Linked DNA regions of Homo sapiens: regions 1, 2 and 3 are each linked to region 4. Evidence: fine-mapped expression QTL. A gene starts in region 4. Each other region holds a variant in brackets. All regions are shown on one strand. Distances are between the middles of the regions. Region 1 overlaps MEGF8 (multiple EGF like domains 8). Region 2 overlaps CIC (capicua transcriptional repressor). Region 3 overlaps POU2F2 (POU class 2 homeobox 2). Region 4 holds the start of MEGF8 (multiple EGF like domains 8).

Region 1 (5,137 bases), 53 kb after region 4:
GTGGGAGACCCAAGTGGGCCCGGCGCCAACGGCTCAGCCGACTCGCAGGGCCTGCTCTTCTTCCGGCAGGACCAGGCCCACATTGACCTGTTTGTCTTCTTCTCCGTCTTCTTCTCCTGCTTCTTCCTCTTCCTCTCACTCTGTGTGCTCCTCTGGAAGGCCAAGCAGGCTCTGGACCAGCGGCAGGAGCAGCGCCGGCACTTGCAGGAGATGACCAAGATGGCCAGCCGCCCCTTCGCCAAGGTCACCGTCTGCTTCCCACCTGACCCTACTGCCCCGGCCTCCGCCTGGAAGCCGGCTGGGCTCCCACCTCCCGCCTTCCGCCGCTCTGAGCCCTTCCTGGCACCCCTGCTGCTGACAGGGGCCGGTGGGCCCTGGGGACCCATGGGAGGGGGCTGCTGCCCACCAGCCATCCCCGCCACCACTGCTGGGCTGCGAGCTGGGCCCATCACTCTCGAGCCCACAGAAGATGGCATGGCTGGCGTGGCCACACTGCTGCTCCAGCTGCCTGGCGGGCCCCATGCACCCAACGGCGCCTGCCTGGGGTCAGCCCTCGTCACACTGCGGCACAGGCTGCACGAGTACTGTGGGGGTGGTGGGGGTGCTGGGGGCAGTGGGCATGGGACTGGTGCGGGCCGGAAGGGACTGTTGAGCCAGGACAACCTCACCAGCATGTCCCTCTGACATGCCCAGGGTTCTCATCCACAGCAGCTGGGTCACCTGATAGGGCCGCCCTGGACTTGGGGTCCCTCCACCTGGGGGCCCCTGGACACTGTCTACTTGGAGACCACTGGCCCCCTTCCCCCAGGGTTGCCCAGATGGGGCCTCCTTTGTTCTGCATTCAGCAGCTATTTATCGAGTACCTACTCTGTCAGGCACTGTCATAGGCGTGGGGCAAAGCAGGAACCAAGAGACGAGGTTCCCTGATCTCATGGGACTTAGGTTCTGGTGAAGGGAGACAATCAGTGCACATGCACACACCCCACACGCATACACACATGAACACATGCACATGTGCACACACAAGTAAGATGGCTTCAGAGAGGGAGAAGCACTGTGAGGCCTCCAGAGGATGTGGCAGTGAGGGACGATGGGGTGAAGTCAGCTGGGCATTCAAAGAAGCTAGACTGAGAACGCCTGAGAAGAACCAGCTACGGGAAGAGCTTTGGGAAGCAAAGGCAGAGGCCCTGGGGTGGGAGCAGGCTTGTTTTATTGGAAGGACCAGAAAACTGGTAAGTGTGACCCAGATCAAGTGTGAGGAGATGAGGCTGGGGATAGTCAGGGGCTGGATCACCCAGGGCCTTGTGGGCCCCACATAGGGTTTTGGGTTTTATTCTCAGGGCAATGGGAAGCTGTTGGATGGTTTGATGAAGGGGAGTGACAGGATCCGATGTACCTATTTAAGAATTTAAGAGGGTCGGGTGCGGTGGCTCATGCCTATAATCCTAGCACTTTGAGAGGCCAAGGTGGGCTGATCACAAGGTCAAGAGTTCGTGACCAGCCTGGCCAATATGGTGAAACCCCATGTCTACTAAAAATACAAAAATTAGCTGGGCATGGTGGCACACACTTGTAGTCCGAGCTACTCGGGAGGCTGAGGCAGAAGAATCGCTTGAACCCAGGAGGCGGAGGTTGCAGTGAGCTCAGATTGCGTCACTGCACTCCAACCTGGGTGACAGAGCGAGACTCCACCTCAAAAAAAAAAAAAAAATTTAAGAGGTCACTCAGTTGTGCTGTGGAGAATGGACCGGAGGGACAAGAGGGGCAGCAGGGATGGTGGGCTGGAGTAGGGTGCTGGCAATGAGGGAGTCTGGCTCAGATGTGGGATGTGTATGGAAGAATATAAATGATGGTGTGGATGTCAGGGTGAGGGAGGAGACAAAACCACGATGACCCCTAGCTTTGTGGCCTGAACTGTGGGTGGCTGAGGGGATCGTTAATTGAATGGGGCAGACTGAGGCTTGTGAGGAAGATCAGAGTCTGGTTCTTGACATGAGATGCCCTTCAGACATCTCTTCACTCAGGTCCAACTAGGGATACAGAAACACTGAATATTTCAACAGCAGAAATTGAATGGGGGGATTGATAGCGCTGGCGAGGGAAGCAGCTGGAAAGAGACAGATGGCACCCTGAGACAGCCCAGAGGTGAATAGGACCCCCAGGCTGCAGGGATAAAGCTCAGTGGTGGTGTTACCTCACCGGGGACCAGGGTCACACAGCAAAGCTGGAACAACAGAGGCGTGTTGTGGGGGAGCCTCAGAGGGGACAAAACCTCTGCCTGAGATCCCACCCCAGGTGGGCATGGGGGCCACTGAGGTTGGGGATGAAAATGCCGGTACCGTCAGTGCACAGCCCTGTTCCAGACAGTGCTGCCTGGAAGATTTCTGGGCTCTCCTGAGGCGCCACCCCGCACCTGAGCCACCTCCTTGGACTCCTGTCCTCTACCCCTTGAGGACCTCCCTCCCTTCTACCCTAGCTGTCTTCTTGAACTTGGGACTCTCCTTTCCCAAGACTTCCATCACTAGCTCCTGGAGGGACTGGACTTTGCATCTTCCCTTCGCGTGGAGCCTCAGTGTGAGAGGCCC[TA/T]GCCAATGCGTGCATGTCAGAGGTGGTGGGGACCACATCAGAAGAAGAGGGGGGTGATGAAATTAACAAATAAAAAGTATGGGGAAAACCCAGGTGTCTGAGCGCGTCTGCACATGTCCCAGCAGGGCTAGGTCTCAACTCTGACCCAGCCCCGCATGCTGGATAACTTGGATAATTGCCCTTATGATGGTGCCACTTCCAAGCTGGGGTGGCTTTGTTCCTGGCTGCCCCTCTTAAAGGGGGAAGGGGGAAGGGGGAAGGGTATGCCCCAACAGAAGCATAATAAATACCAATAAACAGCTCTTGTTTCCCAGAAGGGACGCGCTGAGGGCAGACGTGGGCAGTGGAATTTGACCCTTCCCTAGATCTTCCTCAGGGAAACCCCAGTTTGGCTCAGGAGGGAAAACAGGCTGCCTTGGTCCCAGCTACGGCTTTTTGTTGTTGTTTTGTTTTGCTTTTTGAGGGGACAGAGTCTCACTGTTGCCCAGGCTAGTGTGCAGTGGTGTGATCTTGGCTCACTGCAACCTCTATATCCCGGGTTCAAGTGATTTGCATGTCTCAGCCTCCCAAGTAGCTGGGATTACAGGCACGCGCCACCATGCCTGGCTAATTTTTTTCTATCTTTGGAGGAGACAAGGTTTCACCATGTTGGCCAGGCTGGTTTCAAACTCCTGACCTCAAGTGGTCCGCCCACCTTGACTCCCAAAGTGCTGGGATTACAGTCATGAGCCACTGCACTTGGCCTTTTTCTTTTTTTTTTTGAGACAGGGTGTCTCTTTTTCTGTGACACAGGCTGGAGTGAAGTGATGGAATCATTGCTCACTGAAGCCCCAACTTCCTGGGCTCAGGCGATCCCCCCACTTCAGCCTCCCGAGTAGCTGGAACTACAGACGTGTACCACCTCACCCAGCTAATTTTTGTAATTTTGGTAGAGATGAGGTTTCACCATGTTGCCCAGGCTGGTCTTGAATTCTGGAGCTCAAGTGATCCTCCCACCTTGGCCTCCCAAAGTGTTGGGATTATAGGTGTGAGCCACCATGCCTAGCCCAGGCACAGATTTTATTCTGGGCCCCAATAGAAGGGTTCAAACCAGACAGGGCTGAGAATGAAATGAGACCCTAGCACAATGAGCTTTCTTTTTTTTTTTTTTTTTTTCTCTGAGACGGAATCTCGCTCTGTTGCCCAGGCTGGAGTGCAGTGGTGCAATCTCGGCTCACTGCAGGCTCTGCCCACCGGGTTCACGCCATTCTCTCGCCTCAGCCTCCCGAGTAGCTGGGACTACAGGTGCCCACCACCTCGCCTGGCTAATTTTTTGTATTTTTAGTAGAGACGGGGTTTCACCGTGGTAGCCAGGATAGTCTTGATCTCCTGACCTCGTGATCCGCCCGCCTCCCAAAGTGCTGGGATTACAGGCGTGAGCCACCGCGCCCAGCCCAGTGAGCTTTCTCTAATCCATTAGAGTCACAGTCAAAACCGAAAGCATCATGAGAGCTGCTTTACCTGGCATGCACCTAGGCAAACAAAATCCCTGATTCCTCCCAGGTGGGAGCTGGAGATCTCTGTCCTCTCCATCAGCCTCAGCAGCATAGGCATCTTGCTGGGTGTGTTAAACAATGTATCTTTTCTGCACATCCCGGCTCCAAAGTGCAAGCTGGTTTCTTCATCAGGTGCTCAGCGGAGGACGATGTGTGGGACCCAGAGGGTGTGTGAGTCTCCATTATGGGCCAGGAATAACACTGTATTTTCTTTTTCTTTTTTTTCGGAGATGCTCTTGCTTCGTCACTCAGGCTGGAGTGCAGTGATGTGATCTTGGCGCACTGTAGCTTCAACCTCCTGGGGTCAAGTGATCCTCCCACCTCAGCCTCCTAAGTAGCTGGGACTACAGATGCACGCCACCAGGCCCGGCTATTTTTTTTTGGTATTTTTGTAGAGACAGGTTTTCGCTGTATTGCCCAGGTTTAACATGGTATCTTCATACTTTGTGGGCAATTTAAGGGATTTCCAGGGGTTACCTTGACCTCACGTGAGTTTTGCCTTTATGAGCTATTAGTAGCACCTACCCTCCAGGATATGATCGTGGACTTGCATTTATATGAACTGAGCAGCACATGCTGGACAGTTTGCATAGCATACTGCTGTGGTTTCATTTGGTCTCTCCAGCAATCATATGAGGTCAGTAACCCGTAATCCCCATTTGCAGATGAGAAAACAAAAGGTCATAGACATGGTTTAGCTGTTGCATGAGAGCTGTCAATTGACTCTCAGACCTATGTGCCTGACCACCAGGCTCTTCCACCTCCCAAGGAAGGACCCCTTAAATTAGGTCGACATAGCTGAAAGCTGTCCCAGCACACGTTTAGAGGTGATGCCACATGACTACCTGTACCTCACAGCAGGAAGGGTGAGGCTTTTCCAAGCATCTGTAACCACAAATCAAAAGGGTCAACAGTCCACCTCACTCATGCCTGTAATCCCAGCACTTTGAGAGGCCAAGGCAGGCGGATCACGAGGTCAGGAGTTCGAGATCAGCCTGATCCACATGGTGAAACCC
Region 2 (5,144 bases), 41 kb before region 4:
CCATTCCTTCAGCTCTGTCAGTGGATGAGGCAGGTTGGGGAAAGGGCTCGTCTGCTCCTGTTGACCATCCAACCTGTGTAAGAGCCCAGTCTTGGTCCATCTGAGCCTGTGCAACCTTTACGTGCCCAAGTGTGTGACCCCAGTCCTGTGCCTTTACTGGGTATGGCTCCAGGGCCCCTCTTGGGTGATCCAGGGCCTCTGGGTCTCTGCCAGATGGGCTCCACATCCTTGCCTGTGTCTTTGTGTGAGCCCCCCTCGCCTTTCTGTGGTCCACGTGGCTCTGTATCATTGTCTAACTATATTCCCCAGCCTCTGTTTGGAGTTCCCTCCCTGGGTCCACCCTGAGGTTAAGCCTTGAGTAATGGAAACAGCACTTGAGTTAGAGCTCTGGGCTGGTACATCTTGACTGCATGATCTTGCCACAGTTTATTCAATCTCTGAGGCTCATTTTTTCACCTGAACAATGGGTGTAATAAAGCATACCTCCCTAGGTGGCTGTGAGGATTCAATGAACCAGATAATACATACAAGCTCCCAGCACACAGCAGCCCCAGTAAGTGTTAGTTTCCTTTCTTCCTGGCCCTTTTTTTCTGGGAGGGGGGGCGGGGTTAGTGGGTGGCTGGCAGAGCAGTGTGGTGGGGCCAGCCATGGTGTGCTCTGTGGTTCCCTGCCTTATACTGCTAGACAGAGGGTCCAGAGTGGCCAATGAGTGTCAGGGTGGGTGGCTGAATGATGGCGGTGGCCACTGAGCTCTGTATACCTGATGGGCCTGGGTACTGAAGCAGGTAGCACCCATTAGGGTAGGATTATATAGAGGGTGGGGTCGGTATGATGGTGTCTGTGAGAGCTGAGTGTGCACTGGGGATAGGAGGCGCTTTGTGAGTGCTAGGAAGGCTGTGTGTGTGACGGAGGAGTGTGTGGTTGTGTGGGAGGGGTGTGGAGTGTGTGTAGTGGACAAGCAGGGCTATGCTGAGTTCCTCCTGTTTGACATGTTGTCTGTTTGCATGATTCATGTGGGCTGGTGGGGGTGTGATGAGGATGCGGGTTGGCGAAGCATGTGTGACAGGGCATGGATGAGATGGGTGATGTGAACAGGATGGGTGAATGCACGATGGTGGGTGGGGAGCGATGGACCGTGAGCGTGTGAGGTTGTACATCTGTGTGAGCAGGTATGTGAGGTGTGACAGCGTGGGTGTAAGACAGAGGGCATATGTGCCCGTGGGGTGTGTAGGAGATAATGGGTGTGGCACGAAAGTGTGTCTGTATGTCTGTGAGGAGTGTGAGTGTGAGTAGGTGAGGGCTCAGGATGCCTCGCCCAGCCCTACGCGCAGTTTGTCTGCCCAGCGGGGCCAGGCGCGCCCAGGCGGGTGTGCGGGAGGCGGGCCGAGCCGCGCGTGAGCGTGTTCCTCGCGCGGACTGGACACACAACAGCACCACGCACAACCCAGAGACCTCCGCAGCGCGGCGCCCCGAACCGCCCCCCTGGCTCGGTGCCTTTACTGCAGTGCGCCCTCCCTGCCACCCTCCTACCGCGGCCCCGCCCCCGGCCGGCTCGGGGCCAACCGGAGCCCGCCCCGCCCTGCCCTTATTTGCATATGACTGACGTTCCCCCGGGGCGGCCAATGGGGGCGGGCGCGGCGGGGCCTGACCCGCGCGCGGCGGCGGCAGCCAATGGGCTCACGCGCGGGGGGCCGGGCTTGCGCGGAAGGCCGCGGGGGAAGCGGGGAAGGGGCGGGGGGAGGCGCGGCGGGGGGAGGGGAGCGCGTAGTAGTGGCGGGGCGGGGAGGCGGTGGTGGTTCGGCGCGGGGCTCGCTCGGAGCGCACGGACGCACGCACGCTGGTCCGTCTGCCCGCCCGGGGCCGGAGGTCGACCCGGCGCTGAGCCTCGGGCCCGGGGCCCGGAAAGGCGGGGCGGCGGCGCCGGCAGCCGGGACGCGCGGGGCCAGAGCCGTTACCCGCCGGAGCTGCGAGGGAGGGAGGGAACGAGCGAGCCAGCGAGCGGGGAAGGGAGGGGGCCGCCCCCGCGCACGCGCGTCGCGCCCCGCCCCGCCTGCCCCGCCTGCCCCGCCCGCCGGACTCCGCGAGGGAGGAGGGAGAGGGAGGGGGCGGTGCCGATGGCCCCCGTGCCGCGCGCCCCGTGACGGCCCCCGCGCGCGCCGGGGGGCGGGGCGGGGCCGGTGCGCGCTGACCTCCCCCGCCCCCCGGGCGGCGGGAGGCAGGCGGCGCTGTGCGCAGGCGCGCCCGGCAGAGACCCCCGCGTGGGGCGGCCGGAGGGGGGCGGCGGGGGGGGGGGCATGCGGCGACGGCCTCCCGCTCCCCCCGGGCCCAAGCGGCGACGGCCGAGGAGCGGGCTGCGGGCGGAGCGGCGTCGGCCGCTGAGGAGGTGCGAGCCCCTGCCGGGTCCCCCCTGCGCCGGACCATGTATTCGGCCCACAGGCCCCTGATGCCCGCGTCCAGCGCGGCCTCCCGTGGCCTCGGCATGTTCGGTCAGTAGCGCCTGGGCCCTGGGACTGCAGGGGTCAAGGTGTCGGGGTGCTAAGTGCGGAGTAACGGTGGTGGGGGTATAGTAGGGGAGAGAACAGTAGAGGCAGAGTAAAGGGATGACGGGGAAAGTTACGGAGCTCGGCCGGGCCGAGTGGTTAGTGATGGCAGGTGGGAGTGTAGCGGAGTGGGGCGTATCTGGGGACAGCTGTGATGTTAAAGTGATGGGATGGCACAGGTCCGCTGTAATAGAAAGGTGAGGGGTGCAGAGTAACTGGCTCTGGAGCATGGGGTAGAATAGGAACAGCACGAGACCTGCTGGTCCTAGGGGAGGAGGCTTGGATTGGGTAGTGGGGCTAAGGACAGGGCTCAGGAAGCGAGTGAGGCACTGTTAGCTGAGATCAGAGTGACAGGCTGCAGTGTGTGGTGTAGTTTGCAGAGAGCGCGACACCTAAGAACCTGGAGGGTTGTGCACTGGGGAGGGGTTCAGGAGGGAGCAGGACCAAAGGACTGCCCTCCATTGTCTGCTGGGTCCCTTTTCCCCACCCCCCAGAAAAGAGGAGGCCTTGATGGGAAAGATCTTTGCAAAGAGAGGCACAGGTCTAAGTCCCTGGAGGCTTTTATATGGGGTTGGAGGGCCCAGC[G/A]GGTTTTCAGGGGTAAGGGACAGGGTCATCGTAGTCTTGAGTGCTCTTCAGTGCTGTCTTCGTGATCCCAGTCCCTTGTTTCCTGAGGTCTACTTTTTCCTTTGTCAGCCCCTCTCAGAATCAGGTCTCGAGGCCAGTGCCTCGCACAGAGCTCCCCCCTGTCCAGGCTTCTGAAGGCATGGGGAGGTCACCTCAGGTCAGGTTGATCCGGATCAAGGGAAGGCCTGGAATGATGGAGAGCAGGGCTAGGGCGGTTCCCTCCTCCCTTCTTCATCTTCCCCGAGCAGGGGCCTCTCTCCTCTGCTGGTTCCACTTCCCCCAGGGAGCCAGGCAGTGTGAGGGGAAGCCCACTGGTATCCTAGGCCCGCCCCAAAAGTCCAGCCAGGGGTAGGTCCCAGCCTAGGGCTTGCTCTTCCACCACCCACCTCTTGGGGCTGAAGGTTGGACCCCTGGGACCAGCCTCTTGGTGAGGAAGCATCTTCCTGTGCATATCCTCAAGGAAACACCTGGCACTTGTGCCCTCTCTGGGTAGAGACTTGTTACAATTCTCTCTTCTGGCCCATTGTCCGTGGTTTTTCTTCCAAGGAGTTTACCACACCCTCCCCTGTTTTGGGCAAGGGGGCTGGACCCTGGACTACAGATAAGCCGAGGGGCTGATGGGGAAGGGAGGCTGGGAGGCCGATTTCTGGATGGTGCATTGTCTTTGTGGGGGCAAAGGAGAGAGCTGCTGGAGCCACCTGTGCCCAGCCAGGAAGGGCAGGTCTGGCACTCTGTGTTTGTGGTGGGGGAGGAAGGCAAGGAGCAGGACCTCTCCCACACCACAGTTGTAAGAGACCCCACAGCCTGTGCATAGTGAACGGAGAGTTGGAGGGGAGGGGACGTGGGGCCGTATGCCTCAGGAAAGGGAAAGAGAGCATGAGGCCAAGGTGAGACGCTGTGTTGGGCGGCGACTGGGCTGCTGGGAATGTGGCATGACGGGGGTGGGGGTCCCAGCCCGTAGAGGTCTGGGGCCTTGGGAGTGTGGGATGGCAGCCAAGCATGACCTGGTTTGTGGCAGGAGCAAATCGTTCCTCTGGCCTGGTCCCTGGTGGCAGGGCTGGTGGAGATTGGTGGGGGGAGGAGTGGGGCGTGAGTACTATTTCCCTTCCCTGCTTCTGTTTTCTTTTTTATAAATCTAGAAACCTTTCAGGGAGGAGTTTTTCCTGAGTGACGTTGCATGGACGAGTCCAAGAGGCTCTGGTGTTGGGGGTGGGGGGTAGACAAAAGGGGTGGGGCTACCTCATCTAGGGTGGGGAAGAGCTTGAGTTGGGGTTGGGGCCAGGCTCTCCTGCTGCACAGCTCACCTGGCTCCTTTCCACAGTGTGGACGAATGTGGAACCTCGCTCTGTGGCTGTGTTCCCTTGGCACTCCTTAGTCCCCTTCCTGGCACCCAGCCAGCCTGACCCCTCCGTGCAGCCGAGCGAGGCCCAGCAACCTGCCAGCCACCCAGTGGCCTCCAACCAGAGCAAAGGTGAGGGCTGGTGGGGACTGGGGGGAGGCAAGGGTGTGGGGTCCAGGTGGCCTAGGAGCCCTCTGATCTACCTCTGTGTCCCCAGAACCTGCTGAGTCGGCAGCTGTTGCTCATGAACGGCCACCAGGTGGGACAGGGAGTGCTGACCCTGAGCGGCCCCCTGGAGCCACATGCCCTGAGAGCCCAGGACCCGGACCCCCACACCCTTTGGGGGTGGTGGAATCTGGTAAGGGTCCGCCTCCCACCACGGAGGAGGAGGCCTCCGGCCCCCCAGGAGAGCCCCGGCTGGACAGTGAGACAGAGAGTGACCATGATGATGCGTGAGTTCCCTGAGGCCTGGGACTTGGGGGTGGGATGGCCAGAGACATGGCCCTCACTGTCCCTGCTGCCCCGCCGCAGCTTCCTCTCCATCATGTCTCCTGAGATCCAGTTGCCTCTACCGCCCGGAAAACGTCGGACCCAGTCCCTCAGTGCCCTACCCAAGGAACGGGACTCATCTTCTGAGAAGG
Region 3 (5,144 bases), 200 kb before region 4:
TGCACTACAGCCTGAGTGACAGAGCAAGACTCCATCTCAAAAAAAAAAAAAAAGAAGAAAAAGAGGGAATTAGGTCACAGATGGGAACAGAGGGAAGACCATATGAAGACCCAGGAGAAGACCAGTGGACCACAAGCCAAGGAGAGAGGCCTTGGAAGAGACCAACCCTGCTGACATCCTCGTCTTTAACTTACAGCCTCCGTAATTGTGAAAATGAATTTCTCTTATTTCAGCCACCTAGTCTGTGGTACTTTGATGTGGAAGCCCTAGCAAACTAAGCCTCTCACAGCCCCTGCCCTCCTGCTGTCCCATCCCTGAGCCCCCAGTTGTGGCTGTCTGTGTCCAGGTTCCTTCCCCACAAGACCAATGCGACAGGCCTGGTCTGACTCATCACTGGGTCCCCAGCATCACAAGCCCAGAACGGGTTGTAACTGCTGAATGTCCCTCTCTTTAGCAGTCTCTGTTTCCTACTACTTCTCACCCTTGTCTTACTGTCTCCCTGCTATTTATTTTATTTAATTTATATTTTGAGACAAGAGTCTTGCTCTGTCGGCCAGGCTGGAATGCAGTGGCACAATCACGGCTCACTGCAGCCTCGACCTCCTGGGGTCAAGCTATCCTCCCATCCCAGCCTCCTGAGTAGCTGGGACTACAGGTGTGCACCACCACATCCAGGGACTACAGCTGTGCACCACCACATCCAGCTAATTAAAAAAAAAATTTTTTTTTTTTGTAGAGACGGGTCTCCTTATGTTGTCCAGGCTGGTCTCAGACTCGTGGGCTCAAATGATCCTCATGCCTTGGCCTCCCAAAGTTCTGGGATTACAGCCATGAGCCACCATGCCTGCACTTTGCCATTTAAAACATTTCCTGAGGCCTTGGCATGGGCTGTTCCCTCTGTCTGGAACACTGTTCCCCAATCTGTCCACCTGGCGACCCCCGGACTCATCCTTCAGAACCCAGCATAAGCTCTGTTTTCTTTTCTTTTTTTTTGAGATGGAGTCTTGCTGTGTTGTCCAGGCTGGAGTGCAGTGGTGGGATCTCGGCTCACTGCAAGCTCCAGAGGTCTCCTGGGTTGAAGCAATTCCCTGCCTCAGGCTCCCAAATAGCTGGGATTACATGTGCGCGCCACTACGACTGGCTAATTTTTGTATATTTAGTAGAGAAGGGGTTTCACTGTGTTAGCCAGGATGGTCTCAATCTCCTGACCTCATGATCTGCCCACCTCAGCCTCCCAAAATGCTGGGATTACAGGCGTGAGCCACCACGCCCGGCCATAAGCTCTGTTTTCTATGAAACCACCACCTTGATGCCCCCAGCTCCCAGCCAGGTCTCTCTCCAGCTCCCCATACCCTAGCACCTTCCCTTGTCACTGTCTTAGAGGCTGACTGTAGCTAGCCGGGCCCCACTATGTCTCCCCTATCAGACTAGGAATTTTTCAAGGGCAGATCTGATCTCAGGTTCCTAAACACTCCCCAGCAGAAGACATGTGGATCAGTGGCCCCAAGGTCCTGATCTCCCTCCCCCAGGCCTTTGCCTCTGCTCGTCTCCCACTTGGGTGACCCTTTCCTTCTCTACTGGCAAACTCTTGCTCCTCTTTAAGGTCCAGCTCAAATGTCACCTCCTCTGTGAAGTACTCTCTGATTCCCCAGATGGTCAGTGTCTCTCTCTTCTGGGCTTCACTGACCCTGTACTGTGCTCCACCACATCCTGATCATCCTGGGCAGAGACCTCCACCCCAACTGTGGGCTCCTCAGGAGCCCAGGCTGGAGTCATTGCTGCACAGGCCTAGGAGTACGTCTTTGGAATGAATGAATGCATTAAAGAATCCCCTAACTGACCAGGGCCCAATCCTGTCTAAAACAAACCCCTATCTCTACTGTCACCCAACATCCCCAAGAAACCCTAACTTAAATCTTTAAGGTATGATTTCCTCTGCAGAGACTGTGGCTGGAAAGACAAGAGTGGTTTGAGGGAAATTTTTCACCATTCTGTTACCCTTATTCTCCCTAAATTATCCCAACCACTCCTACATATCCCTGCATACTCCCTGCCCCACACTTGGCTGGGTCACAACAAAATGGCCAACTGCTGCCCTTTGTCTTTTCTCTTTCCACCTCCCCTGTCAGAGCTCAATCTGAGAGAAGGGTCAGA[T/A]CATTTCCACCAGGAATGAACAGGGAGCTCCATTTCCACCGTGGACTAAAAGCCAAATGACGCCTTAACAGGGACTCCAGGGCACTAGCAATCATAGACTTGGAGGGTCCATCAAATGGCTCGGCCTCAGCCTCAGCCTGAGCCCAGGCAGAGATGCCCATCGCCTATCACTCAACTCTAGAAAAATATTGATGCCTGTTCCCACCCTAGACTCTGATTTCAGTGGTACAGGGTGTGACTTGGGCATCCAGATATTTAAAAGCCCCTCCAGGTGATTCTCTTTTTTTTTTTTTAGACAGAGTCTCACTCTGTCGCCCAGGCTGGAGTGCAATGGTATGATCTCAGCTCACTGCAACCTTTGCCTCCTGGGTTCAAGCGATTCTCCTGCCTCAGCCTCCCGAGTAGCTGCAATTACAGGCATGCATCACCATGCCCGGCTAATTTTTGTATTTTTATTAGAGACGGGGTTTCACCATGTTGGGCAGGCTGGTCTCGAACTCCTGACCTCAAGTGATCCGCCCACCTCAGCATTCCAAAGTGCTGGGATTACAGGCATGAGCCACCGCACCCAGCCCCCTCCTGGTGATTCTAATGTGCTCCATCCCCTGGCACCTTCAGAAGCCCCTCTCAAAGCCTCATTCACACACAAAAGATTGGTTGGTTATGTATGGCTATTCCCACCCCTCATCATAGGTAATGTGTAATATTTTAGGGGAACTGAAAGAGAAAAAGCAATGCATAGCCCTACCAGGCCCCTTGGAGCCATGTTGCCCCTTGAATCCCACCTTCCTCAGGTCAGACACCCCTCAACCAGGGCTGCCCAGCCCTGAGCTCACACTCACTTGCCCGACTGCCCCAGGCCTGGGACTCTTGGTCCTCTCCACCCTCCCACTCCTCCCTCCCCGGACTTTCACTTCTCCTCTGCATTTCCCCCCGCCAGTTTTAGCAGACTTAGGCCAGCTTCTCGTTAGCACTTACCGAAAACGGGGCTAAATATAGAGGGCCCAAGGACTGCCCCTCACCCCTCCTGGCCCCACTTGTCCTGTCCCCTGGGTCCCCTGCCTCCGCAGCCTGCTTCAATTAGGGGTATGGCCTGGGAGCCCCTGTGGGCAGGTTGGTGCTGCCGGGAACCTCTGTGGGCCCAGCTGGCCGAGCCCCCGTCCTCCCCAGAAGCAGCACCTCACCCCTCCCCACCCCACAGCTGTCCCTGGGTGGCCTCAAGGGAGTGAACATTTCTGAGTTGTCAGGAGGGAGGGATGGAGATACAGGCAGCAGACACAACAAGAGAGGTGGCCCCACAGCTGCGCTGACAGCAGGCAAGAGCTGCCAACAGTACACACCCCATGGCCACAGCCAGGCAAGGCCCCGGCCAACACAATACAAGAAACAGATGTGCACAGATTCCAGACAGGAATGTGAACAGGTTTGCAGATACGACACATGCCCAGACATGATGCCACGGGCATATATGCAAAACACACACCCAAACGTGCGTACACACATGCACTCACACACACTCTCACACTGAGTGACACACAGCCAGCCAGACACACGTAAAAAGTATACAAACTCACACACCCGGAGTCGAACACAGACATACACCCTCCCCCTACATACTACACCCAGTCACTCACAGACTCAGACATGTGTACGCACACATGTACTTACACATGTTCTCACACCAAGTCACATCAGTCCAGCCAGAGATACACACCCAGACATGCACATGCTCACACAGAGTCACACACACAAACACAAGTGCACACACATACACCCAGAGTCACCTTATCCTGGAAGATGGCCAGGGCTGACCTCTGAACCCAGTTCACAGGTGTGGAGTCTGAGACCAGGCAGGGTGAGTGATCTGCCCACAGCCACACAGTGTATTAATTCATGTCCAGGCAGGGAAAATTCACCCCAGTCTTCCCACACTGGGCTGTTCTGTGAGAAATCCCAAGTAAAGGGTTTAGCCTACTGCCCAGCACCTCTGAGGTCCCCATTTAACCCCAGAGAGGAACGAGTCAGTGGGAGCAGACACCCTGGATCTCTGTGTCTACACTGTATGGACACACACACATATACACAGTTGCATACACAGTCACCTCAACAAATAAACATGTCACCCTGCAAATAGTCTTCCTTTCATCCCACCCCTCTCCTCACCGCCTTTGCTTGCTCATACCCACTCATTCTTCATATCCCTGCTCAGACACCCCCTTCCTCCAGGAAGCCCTCCTTGACACTCTACCAACTAAATCACATGTTTTCAGGGCTCCTACGATCCCCTAATACCTCCCCGTCCTGGCCCAACCCCTCTACCTATGTCCCCCTATCCCAGCCCTGACCCCTCTGCCTGGGCCTCCCCCATCCCAGCCCCAACCCCTCTACCTATGTCCCCCCATCCCAGCCCTGACCCCTCTGCCTGAGCCTCCCCAACCCCAGCCCTGACCCCTCTGCTTGGGGCCTCCCTCATCCCAGCCCCAACCCCTCTACCTTTGTCCCCCCATCCCACCCCGACACCTCTGCCTGTGCCCACCACCCCAGCCCTGACCCTTCTGCCTGGGCCTCCCCCATCCCAGCCCTGACCCCTCTGCCTGGGCCTCCCCCATCCCAGCCCTGATCCCTCTGCCTGGACCTCCCCCATCCCAGCCCTGACCTGTCTGTACTGTCATTGGTGACAGGTCTGTCTTCTCCAATAAACTGGGAGCTCCAGGAGGACAGACCTGAGCTACCCTTTCCACTGTACTTCCAACACCCAACACAGAACTACTCAATAGATACATGTTGGTGGAGGACACACGGGTGCCCGCACACAATGGCGCATATAGGACAGCACACACCACCAAACCAAGACTCATGCCCATGGTCATGCCTACACAGCCACAAATGAAACAGGCATGAAGGGCTGAGTGCTTGCCATGTTCCAGGCACTGTGCTAAGCATGCTACATGTATTACCTCATTTAAGACTCCCATCAACACTGCTGAGTG
Region 4 (5,144 bases):
TGCAGGACGCTGACCCTAAGCAATCAGTGACAGCTCAGTGATCAGGCCTCTGATGGAGGAAGCACAGGCCGAGTTTTGTTGAAGGGAAAAGGTGAGGGTCCAGGGCATTTGGAGAGCCCAGAGGGGACGCCTAATCCAGTGTGAATGGCTTCAGGGAAGTGTGGTGGATGTCAACTGAAAGGGAATCCTTCGGACCCCAAGTTTATGGGGACAGCCTCCGGCCTGACAGTGCCTCTCACACCTGCTCCTGGCCCTGGCCTCAGATCATGACCCGCCCATCAGCGGCCAACAAGAACTTCCCGTACCACGTGCGCACGTCGCAGATCGCTTCAGCCGGAGTCCCTGGACCCGGAGGGAGCCAATCCGCTGACAAGGCCTTCCCGCAGCACGTCTATGGGAACGTGACGTTTATCAGCGACTCGGTGCCCAACTTCACGGAGCTCTTCTCCATCCCCCCGCCCGCCACCTCCGTAAGCCCCGCGGCCCCAGCGCCCGAGGAGCTGCTGGCGCCGCCCCTGGAGTACCTGACCCCGCTCCCGGCCCCGCCGCCGCCCCCAGCGCCCGGACCCCTGAGCCCTCCTCCTGCCTTTCGCACTCCCCGCGCCCCAACACCGCGCCGCGACCGTCCCCTGGCGCCCGCGCCCACCCTGCCTGACTGGGTTCTGGCGCTGTTGCGCACACCCCCGCAGACTCCCTGCGCCGTGCCCCCACCGCCCGCCTTCCGCGGCTCTCCCCCAGCTCCCCGGCCGCCGCCGGAGTTCGCCCCGCGCGCCCCGACGCCGCCCTTTGAGTACCTGGCCCCGCTGCCCAGGCGCCCCGCCACCCAGTCCTTCCCTGACTGACAACGTGCGTCCACACCTGGGGTGGAAGGGTTCTCCGGGGGAGGGGGACGGGCCTTCGGGGCCGCATCTGCCCCCCGAGGGTCCCGGACGGCCTCTGACCCTGACCCCCCTCCCAGGCCGGGAAGCAGGTGGAGGAGACAGCGGTGGCGGCGGCGGTGGCCCCGAGGGGCCGCGTGGTGACCATGGCCGAGCCGGGCGCAGCCTCCCCCCCACTTCCCGCTCGGTTCCCCAAGGCGGCCGACTCGGGCTGGGACGGCCCGACGCCGCCCTACCAGCCGCTCGTGCCCCAGACGGCAGCGCCGCACACCGGCTTCACCGAATACTTCAGCATGCACACGGCCGGGGGCACTGCACCCCCGGTCTGAGCACCCCTGCCCGCCCCTGCCCCATGGGCCATGACCGGGCCCCGGCCGGGCTCCGGACCCCTGCTTTATCCCGGCCCGAGAGCTCGCCCATCCCCGGCCTTCCCGACCCTTCCCACCCCGCGCGCCCAGGTTGGGTACGCTGCGTCCCGCCCCCCTCCCCTCTGTGCCAAACGGTCCCGCGGGAGCCGCTCTCCCCGTCCCCTCCCTCAGCCCCTGCCCCGAGCGGCGCCGGATTCTGGGCTCCCGCTGTTCCGTGACCTCCGGCCCCCTGGCCCCCTTCGAGACCTCTGACCCCGCTGGACTCCGGAACACCCGTGGTGACCGCCGGGACCCTGCCTGTGACTCTCCAGGACTCTGCGACCCCGGGATGGATATTGCGATGCTGGTCTCGACCCTGAAACCCTCCCTCGGATCTGTGACCTCGGACCCGTACTCCATCTGCCGCATCTCCATTCCGGGGGCCTTCCCTCGGGTCCCTGGCAGAAAGACATTTTACCCCTTCTTGCCAAAATAAAAAAGGATTCGTTTTTATCTATAACATGGCTTCTTTTGCATCTTGATGGTGTTCAGCGGCGGGGCTGAGCCAGAACTATGTCAGGCTCGGGACCTCAGTGTGTCCATCTGTGAAATGGGAATTTGGAACCGGAGGCAGGGGCCTGTATAACCTGATCTTTATGTTGCCCCAGAATGTGGGAACATTGAAGATGATCAAACATCTAGCAGGGTCTTGCACCGCTCCTTTATTTTTGCCTTCCTTTCCTCACTCAGAGGTAGAGGCGCCCTCCAGTGGCCCATGCTTTGCTGAACCACAGGCACCCAGAGTTTGGGTTACGATCTTAGCACTGCGCATATGTGTATTTCTCTCCCTCCAGGAGGACGCTGCTGCGCATGCGGTTGGGAACAAATGGGCGGGGATTTCCCCGGAAGTCTCCCTTTATGGAGGGTTGGGGTTGGGCGCTCCGCAGTCCTCCCAGGGCCGCTCTGACCGGCCGCTCTGTAACTTCTCGCCTCCTCTTCGCCGTCCCTCCCACAGCGGCTGCTCGGCTCCCGCCCCCTCGCCCTCCCACAGCGGGTCTTCCCGCGGCCGCTCTGGCCCAAGCGTCCCCTCGTCTCTCTGATCTGGCCCATCCGGCTTCGGAGGGAGGCGAGGGTGGGTGAGCAAAGGGATTGGGTCTGTGGGGTCCAGGCCCGAACCCCTGAAGACGGGCTCCGCCCCCGGCACCCGCTCGCGCCCCGCCCCCGGCTGGAGGAGTCTCTCCTGGACCATCCGAACCTAGCCTGTCCCGGCCCGCAGCCTCTATGGAGGCTCCTGCCGGGCCGTAGAGCCCTTCGCCCCCTGGGGACCCACCCGTCTATAAGGTCCGTTTGGCCTGCAGCAGCCTGAGTCCGTAATGCTGGGCACTGTTCATGGGATCGGCCCCCTATGGAGCCCTGTGTCTATAGGGGACTCCTACGGTCCCTAGGGTTCGGCCCCGTCCATAATGACTCCATATACAGGGCCTTCCATCGCTCTATAGGGCTCAGCCCTCGGCTTCCAGAGCCTGTCAGCAGTGGCCGTACCCTTCGCCGGGACTGCCGGGTCTCCGGGACCTCTTCGATCTACAAGGTCATGTTATGCCTATAGAGGTCGCATTTGCAGGGCCTCACCCCGGGTAGAGGGTCCTCTCCAGGTTTTTACGGCCTGTCCCCGCTCTAAGGGTCAGTGCAGGAGGCGGCGATGGCCCTGGGCAAGGTTCTGGCCATGGCACTGGTTTTGGCCTTGGCCGTGCTGGGGTCGCTGTCCCCTGGGGCCCGGGCGGGGGACTGCAAGGGGCAGCGGCAGGTGCTGCGGGAGGCGCCAGGCTTCGTGACGGATGGTGCGGGCAACTACAGCGTCAATGGCAACTGCGAGTGGCTCATCGAGGGTGAGTGGGGCCGCGTGGGTCACTCACTAATTCGCTGGTAGTTCATTCATGTGTGCATTCATCCACTCACCACATTCCCAGAGCTCGGTTCTGGTCCAGGCCTTTTGCTCTAAAATGCCTGACACCCAGGGTTGCAGCCAACCTGGGCCCTGCCCTGGAAGGCCTCCAAGTCTGGTGGGGGAGATGCACCTACACCCAGATTTACAATTACAAGACAGGAGCATCAGTGCCGGGCCTTCTGAGTAACTGTTAAGAACTCAGGGTCTGGGTCCAATCATTTGGCTTTGAATTTGGTTCTACTACTACTACTTTTTTTTTTTTTTTTTTTTGAGATGGGGGCCTCACTCTGTCACCCAGGCTGGAGTGCAATGGTACCAACACAATTTACTTACTGCAGCCTCGACCTCCTGGGCTCAAGTGATCCTCCCACCTCAGCCTCCCAAGTAACTGAGTGTGTAGAGACAGAGTCTCACCATGTCGCCCAGGCTAGTCCTGAACTCTTGGGCTCAAACGATCCTCGCACCTCAGCCTCCCAAAGTGTTGGGATTGTAGGTGTGAGCCACTGTGCCTGGCTTCTTATTATTAGCTTTGTGACTTTGAGCAGGTGGTTTTCTTTCTCTGAGGTTCTGTTTCCTTCCCCCACAAATGGGATAACAACAGTACTCACCTCATAGAGTTGTTGGAATGAAATGAAAACAGGTATTTAACATGCCTGATGTGTGGCATATAGTAACTGTTCAATAAATGGCATTAGGATTATTGTTGTTGTTATTTGTGAAGTACTTCAATAAAAGCATTTTTCTTCAGTCATTCATGTGCCAGACATTATGTTTCCCATTGGACATAGCCCAGACTGAGACAGCTCCAGCAATCCCTGGTGACTTAGGTCTTGGAGTCTAGTTGGGGAGACAAACACATTAATAGTGAGAGACAAGAGTGGTCTTTGATGGAGGAACCCCAGAGGCCTGGGAGAGCCCAGAGAAAGTGCCTGATCTGGGGCCGGGGAGAACAGAGAGGCTTCCTGGAGGAGGAAATGTCTAAGCTGAGACTTAAAGGACCAATAGGAATCTGTCAGGAGTGGGAGGAAAGGCCCCAGCCCTACCCTTCTGGGCTCCCAGTCAGTGGGAGAGACAAACCCACTCCGAGGCTGTTTGTTTTCCTTTTCCACCCAATAAACTCCTATGCATGCCTCAGAACCCTGCCCCAGTGGCTCTTTCTCTGTGAAGACATGTGGCTTAACCTGGGGTATAGCTGAGATCAGAGGCATCTGTACGAGGGAGCAGAAGGGCATTCCAGGCAAGAATAGCTGTGCAAAGGCGGGGAAGCGGGAGAGTGATGCTTTTGAAGAACTAGAAATCCAGTGTGTTAAAACATAGAATACTGGCAGGGTATGGTGGCTCATGCCTGTAATCCCAGCACTTTGGGAGGCCGAGGCCGGCAGATCGCCTGAAGTCAGGAGTTTGAGACCAGCCTGGGCAGTATGGTGAAACCCCATCTCTACTAAAAATACAAAAATTAGCTGGGTGTGATGGCGCGCGCCTGTAGTCCCAGCTTCTCAGGAGGCTGAGGCACAAGAATCACTTGAACCTGGAGGTTGCAGTGAGCCAATATTGTGCCACTACGCTCCAGTCTGGGCGGCAGAGCGAGACTCCATCTGAAACAAAAACAAAAACATAGAATACAAGACAACGAATGAGCCAGAGGCTGCAGGGTGGGAGGAGCCAGCAGGTGTAGGGCTCTGTGATTTTGAGCTGTATCCTGAGGGCAATACAGGGGTGAAAGAGAAGTTGAAAGGCAGTACCTGCAGAAGCCCAGGAAGGCCTCACAGAGTAGTGGATGTAAAAGCTGGCCTCCAGACAGGGGAGGTCCTGGGCAAAGGCCAGAGGTGTGACAGAGCCTGGATCATGCAGGGCCTCCCTTGGGAGGCTGTGGAGCTTTGTCTTTGTCTGGGGGCTCTGGGGAGCTATGGAAGGGTTTTGAGCAGGGAGAGGACATGATCTGATTTATGTTTTAGAAGATCTCTCTGGCTGCTG

Evidence for each region.
Region 1: its variant is fine-mapped to the expression of MEGF8 in skeletal muscle (GTEx, PIP above 0.99).
Region 2: its variant is fine-mapped to the expression of MEGF8 in whole blood (TOPMed, PIP above 0.99).
Region 3: its variant is fine-mapped to the expression of MEGF8 in atrial appendage (GTEx, PIP above 0.99).

Annotation. Positions count from the first base shown.
Region 1 is chr19:42,376,092-42,381,228 of GRCh38, forward strand. MEGF8 (multiple EGF like domains 8) reads left to right here. Exons shown (of 42, transcript NM_001271938.2): 42 at 1-2,674. The coding sequence ends at 684. Among named protein-coding and RNA genes, the nearest start is that of CNFN, 12 kb to the right of the region's middle. The variant TA/T (reference allele first, on the strand shown) is at 2,586.
Region 2 is chr19:42,282,286-42,287,429 of GRCh38, forward strand. CIC (capicua transcriptional repressor) reads left to right here. Exons shown (of 21, transcript NM_001386298.1): 3 at 4,486-4,635; 4 at 4,721-4,955; 5 at 5,035-5,144. Among named protein-coding and RNA genes, the nearest start is that of CIC, 16 kb to the left of the region's middle. RefSeq lists silencers at 1,297-2,206, 1,505-1,679. The variant G/A (reference allele first, on the strand shown) is at 3,126.
Region 3 is chr19:42,126,405-42,131,548 of GRCh38, forward strand. All of the region lies in intron 1 of POU2F2 (POU class 2 homeobox 2), which reads right to left. Among named protein-coding and RNA genes, the nearest start is that of POU2F2, 3.5 kb to the right of the region's middle. RefSeq lists an enhancer at 3,484-3,593. The variant T/A (reference allele first, on the strand shown) is at 2,155.
Region 4 is chr19:42,323,320-42,328,463 of GRCh38, forward strand. MEGF8 (multiple EGF like domains 8) reads left to right here and starts at 2,316. Exons shown (of 42, transcript NM_001271938.2): 1 at 2,316-3,111. The coding sequence starts at 2,925. TMEM145 (transmembrane protein 145) reads left to right here. Exons shown (of 15, transcript NM_173633.3): 14 at 264-470; 15 at 1,418-1,745. The coding sequence ends at 1,498. RefSeq lists silencers at 2,242-2,431, 2,472-2,611, 2,832-2,901, 2,912-2,981.